Regions from separate parts of the Homo sapiens genome. Here region 1 is linked to region 2. Evidence: fine-mapped expression QTL. A gene starts in region 2. The other region holds a variant in brackets. All regions are shown on one strand. Distances are from middle to middle. Region 1 overlaps SBNO2 (strawberry notch homolog 2). Region 2 holds the start of WDR18 (WD repeat domain 18).

Region 1 (2,897 bases), 160 kb after region 2:
ACACAGAGGCAGAGAGGGAGACAAAGAGACAGGTGGAGAGGGAGACAGAGAGACAGAGGCAGAGACAAAGAGACAGAGACAGAGAGGGAGACAGAGAGACAGAGACAGAGAGGGAGACAGAGAGACAGGGGCAGAGACAAGCAGAGAGGGAGACACAGACAGAGACAGAGAGGGAGACAGAGAGACAGAGGCGGAGATGGAGACAGAGACAGAGAGACAGAGACAGAGAGGGAGACAGAGACAAAGAGGGAGACAGAGACAGAGACTGAGAGGGAGACAGAGAGATGGAGCATAGAGGGAGACAGAGACAGAGGCAGAGAGAGAGACAGAGGCAGAGAGGAAGACAGAGGCAGAGAGGGAGGCAGAGACAGAGAGGGAGATAGGCAGAGAGAGATTGAGAGGGAGGGAGACAGAGAGAGAGACTAGGAGCAGGGGGAAGAGGGAGAGAGAGAGACAGAGAAAAGAAAGAGACAGGCCGGGCACGGTGGCTCACGCCTGTAATCCCAGCACTTTGGGAGGCTGAGGCGGGCGGATCACCACAGGTCAGGAGTTTGAGACCAGCCTGACCAACATGGAGAAACCCTGTCTCTACCAAAAAAAAAAAAAAAAAAATTAGCCAGGCATGGTGGTGCATGCCTGTGGTCTCAGCTGCTCGGGAGGCTGAGGCAGGAAAATCGCTTGAACCTGGGAAGCGGAGGTTGCAGTGAGCCAAGATCGTGCCATTGCACTCCAGCCTGAGCAACAAGAGCAAAACTCTGTCTCAAAAAAAAAAAAAAAGAAAGAAAGAAAGGAAAGAGAGAAGGAACACACAGAAAGAGGCAGAGAAGGGGTGAAAGAGAAGAAGGGGGCGGGGCAAGGACAGGCTGACCCAGGGCTGGGGCTGGTAGGAAGGCAGTGGCGGTGAGGAAGGAGCCACTGCCATCAGTCGCACCCCGGGCTCCTCCCCTGTGCGTCCCCTGAAGGGTGGGGCACAGATGCCAGCTCTGGACAGGCGCCTCCCCTGCCTCAGTTTCCTTCTGTGTCCGGCTGGCATGGCGCAGCAGCTTGCCACACCTTGGCCAGGACCAGATCACATGGGGGTCCAGGGCTACTGCGGGTGAGGACAGAGCCCCTGTGCGCACCTCGCTGACCTCAGCCCCAAGATGAGCAGGGGCGCCCCCCTCCCCTGAACACAGCTGGTAGGCCAATTTCCAGGCCACACACTGGGGGCTACAGGACAGGAATCCACCCTCTTCCCGTCCCAGGGCCCGGGAGTCTGAGGCCAAGGTGTCTCAGGGCCTTGCTCCCTCCCACAGCTCTGACCCACCTCTTCCAGCCCTGGGGCTCCAGGAGAAACTGACCTGTGGCCACACCGCCCCAGCCCCGGCCTCCAGCGTGGCGCCAGCTCCCAATCTCTCCTGTCTCTTCTGAGGACCCTTGTGCTGGATTTCAGAGCTACCTCATC[T/C]CATCTTGATCCCTACCCAATGACATCCAAAAAGACCCTACTTTCCAGGAAGGTCCCCTCACAGACTCTACTGGGGAGGCGGACTTGACGGACGCGGTCACCCCAGCACAGACTCAGGGTCCGGCTGGCTTTGCCCCGCTCTGCTACGGCCCTGAGTGGGGAAAACTGGGCCCGGGGTCCACCCGGCGAGCTGTTTGCAGGGCCTGGGTCTGGGTGAGCCCTGGGACCTGAATTGGCTCCATTCTGCTGCAGCCACACCTGACCGCTTCTCTCTGGATCTGGCCGGCTTGCGCCCATCCCCCCAACAGCTCTGAGGCCCAGGCAGATCTCACATGCCCATTACACAGGGGAAGCGGAGGCTTGGGGGAGCTGAGCACCAGGTGACCCTCGCTCCCCGGCAGGCCCTGGATGTGGTCCGGCCCAGCAGCAGCCCCTGGCCCCGGGTCCCACACGGAGGCTGTGGTATCCGAACCGTCCCAGGGAAGCCGATCTCTGTGGCACTGGGTGCTCCAGAGCTGCCGAGAGGAAGCTGGGGCACTGGGAACCCCTTGGGGAAGGCTGTGAGGGTGGGGGTGGGGTCCGCCTGATGCCGCAGTGGGAGGCTGTGAGGGTGGGGGTGGGGTCCGCCTGATGCCGAAGGGGGAGGCTGGGAGGGTGGGGGTGGGGTCCGCCTGATGCCGCAGTGGGAGGCTGGGAGCCTCCCCGCGACCCTGGGGAGAAGGAGGTGGAAAGTTCTGTTCCTTTGGTATGTGAGTTCCGTTTTCAGGTGGCTGCTAAGGGGTTGGGACTCCAATGTGCAGGGTGTCTGGACCCGCCTAGAGGGAGGGCCGTGGGGGCAAAGGCTGCCAAGGGCATCTCTCCCAGCACCGCCCTCCCCGCAACTCCCTCTGTGGCATTGCCCAGATGCTCGCAGGGACCCCAAGGGCTGGGCGGGGCTCACTGCTGACACGAAGGGCCAGTCACTGGCTCTTCCCCAAAACCAAGCCACATCTCTGGGCTCCTACTGCCCCACCGTAAACCCTGCGGCCGAGGGGCCAAGCCGAGGTCACTGAGTCCCAGGCAGGCCTGAGCGAGAGAGGTCGCAGGGCAGCTGGAGGGGCGGCCCAGACTCCACCCTGCCCCCCACGGCGCGGTGAGCTCCTGGGGCTCCTACCTGAGCAAAGTCGCAGGTCTTTGGTGGCAAGCTGGAGGCGGTGGCCACGGGGGCATAGCTGGTGTCTGGGCAGGGCTGGCTGCCGAGGAAGGAGGCGGAGCTCATGAACGGGCTGGAGGGAGATGGGGGGGGGGGAGGTGAGATGGGGTGCTCAACCCACTCCCTCAGTAACACACCTGCACCCCCATGGCCGCAGCCAGAGGCCCCTCGAGGCCCCACTGGAGTGTGCCCAGCCCGGCAGGACCCATGGCCCCGCTGCACATACAGAGGGGCCTCCAGGGGGGTGGTGGTCAAGCCTGG
Region 2 (2,834 bases):
GAGAATCGCTTGAACCCGGGAGGCAGAGGTAGCAGTGAGCCGAGATCGCACCATTGCACTCCAACCTGGGCCACAGAGCAAGACTGTCGCAAAATAAAGAAAGAAAATAAAAATGAGGTTGGAGGAAACTCTGGAGGCACAGCAGGTCCTTGGATTGGACTCCCTCCCTCCCTCCCAGGATAAAATGAAATCCAGGCCTCGTTCACACGGCCCTGCACGGCCCGGCCCCGCTCCGTGGTCCTGCCCCAGGGCCTTCGCACGGGCCTGCCCCGCACACGGTTCTCTGGGGGTCGCTGGCTCCCCGCTCAAACGGCCCCTCCTGCCGACCAGGCGGGTCCCCGGGGCCGCCCTCCCTCTGGCCTGGGCTCGGGGTCGGTGGCTCGCGCCTGCCACCTGGCGGCCAGCGGGGCTGCGGCGCCGCACGCTCTGGCACCAGCCTCCTGCCCCGGCCGTGCCCTCCGCCGGGAGCCGCGGACCAGGAGTCGCACCGCCTCCGGGGACCGCACCCCGCATGCAGCCTCCAGCCCCTGCCTCTTGCTGCTCGAGGGCACACGACCCAGGTCAGCTGCAACCCCCGGGCGGAAATCCCGACTTTTAAATGAATGCTCCCTTTTTATCCCTTTTTAAGGGGTTGGCAACTAATTGCACATTTTAAATCATACTGTTTTTAGGCCGGACGTTGTGGCTGAAGCCTGTAATCCCAGCGGTTTAAGAGGCCAAGGCCTAAGCCCAGGTGTTGGAGACCAGCCTGAGCAACACAGTGAGACCCCCCATCTCTACTAGATATATATTTAGTATAAATAAATAATAGATATATGTTTTTCTTTGAGACAGAGTCTCATTCGCCCAGGCTGGAGTGCCTGGGATCTCGGCTCACTGAGACCTCCGCCTCCCGGGTTCAAGCGATTCTCCTGCCTCAGCCTCCCACCACGCCCGGCTTTTTGTACTTTTTGTAAAGACGGGGTTTCGCCATGTTGGCCAGGGTAGTCTCGAACTCCTGATCTCAGGTAATCCACCCACCTCGGCCTCCCAAAGTGCTGGGATTACAGGCCTGAGCCAAAGCGCCCGGCCTTTTTTTTTTTTTGAATGCCGTTTTCAGACATGGTCCGTGACGGGCAGCCGTGACATGAAGTTAGACCCTGCTTGGCTCGGACAGAACTGGCGACTTGTTTGACCTACACCAAGCTATCCGACTAATAATTTAGATGTTGAGGCCCCTAAAGAGGGGTCAAGGGGGAGGCAGATGTCGACCAATAAGGAAACACTGGGCCGGGCGCGGTGGCTCACGCCTGTAATCCCAGCACTTTGGCAGGCCGAGCTGGGAGGATCACTTGAGCTCAGGAGTTCGAGGCCAGCCTGGGCAGGACAGTGAGACCCTGGCTCTACAAAACTAAATAAATAAGGAAGCAGTGAATTCCAATGTATTCATCGCCAACTAGCCATGTTGCTGGGTGTGCGCTCTCTCTTTTAGGCGCAATGTGTCATTTAGGCCTGTGACGTCGGAACTTTATTATTTGAACATTTAAAAATAAATGAATCCAAGAGCTTGAGTCACTTGGCCAAAAATGCCCAGGAGGAAAAGGCCAAGTCAGGTACCCCGGCTCTAGAGCTACTAACTGATCGCCGGAGACCCTGGGCCTTGGAAGAAGTCGCCTCCCCAGATCTCTAAGCAGGCCGCGCGACCCTCGAGTCTCAGGTAAGCGGGAAATCCCACTTCACAAGAAAGCCCCTCTCTCCGAGGCACGGGCGCATGCGCGGGTCGGCCACCCGCTGGGGCCGCGGGGCCGCCGCTCTGGCCCGCGTGGGGCAGTCGTCCGCGTCTCGCTCATGATGACGCACGTCCGGGGCGGTGGGGAAGGCAAGATGGCGGCGCCCATGGAGGTGGCCGTGTGTACGGACTCGGCGGCCCCGATGTGGAGCTGCATCGTGTGGGAACTTCACTCGGGCGCCAACCTGCTCACCTACCGCGGCGGCCAGGCGGGACCCCGCGGCCTGGCGCTGCTCAATGGCGAGTATCTGCTGGCGGCGCAGCTGGGCAAGAATTACATCAGCGCCTGGGAGCTCCAGCGGAAGGTGCGGCGGTGCGGTCTCGCTGCTGGGGTCATGGGGCGCCCGAGGCTGAAGTCGGGGGATGGGTTGGTGGGGGCCGCGTGCACCCTTAGTCGGAATTGGCGTGGGGAGGGGAGGTGGTCTCCGTTCGGGCGCTCTGCGCATGCGCGGGTCTGGGGGCTTTGGGGAGATACGTGCGACCTGTTAGGCCGCTCTGCGCACGCGCGGGGCTCAGGCCTGAGCTGCTATGGGGGCAGTGGGGGAAAATGGGAGACGCTCCGGGGGGTCCCTTGGGGCAATTGCGCATGCACGAGTTCTTGGAGCGCGAAATTTGATTAAAAGGGGCCTATGAGCTCTGTGGATGTTGTGGTTCTGGAGGAAAAGGGAGAAGGACCAAGGTCTGGGGGAGTCTCCCATGAAGGGGTGGCGCAGGAAACTCATGTTTATTCCTCCAATAAAGCAACAGATACTCACCGTCGCCCACAGTTTCCCCTCTACTCCCAAGCCCAAATGCAGCCAGTCCCTGAAGCTACTCGCTTCCCCCGTGTGCCCGCTGAGATCTCTTGGGACTGGCTCTGTGCTCCAGCATTGCCTGATGGAGTCTACACACAACTCATAAATTTCTCCCATTTTATTTTAGTTTTGAGACAGGGTCTCACTCTGTCGCTGAGGCTGGAGTGCAGTGGTGCGATCTCGGCTCACTGCAGCCTCTGCCTCTAGGGTTCAAGCGATTCTCGGGCCTCAGCCTCCTGAGTAGCTGCAACTACAGGCCCGCACCAACCACC

Evidence for each region. PIP is the estimated chance that this variant, and not a neighbour inherited with it, causes the effect. A credible set is the group of variants that fine-mapping cannot tell apart.
Region 1: its variant is the best candidate, but not a certain one, in a credible set for the expression of WDR18 in skeletal muscle (GTEx, PIP 0.89).

What each region holds. Positions count from the first base shown.
Region 1 is chr19:1,144,712-1,147,608 of GRCh38, forward strand. It overlaps SBNO2 (strawberry notch homolog 2), which reads right to left. Exons shown (of 32, transcript NM_014963.3): 4 at 2,598-2,709. Among named protein-coding and RNA genes, the nearest start is that of SBNO2, 28 kb to the right of the region's middle. The variant T/C (reference allele first, on the strand shown) is at 1,445.
Region 2 is chr19:982,491-985,324 of GRCh38, forward strand. It overlaps WDR18 (WD repeat domain 18), which reads left to right and starts at 1,855. Exons shown (of 10, transcript NM_024100.4): 1 at 1,855-2,073. The coding sequence starts at 1,864. RefSeq lists silencers at 121-510, 1,675-1,764 and enhancers at 1,449-2,390, 1,815-1,964, 1,995-2,174.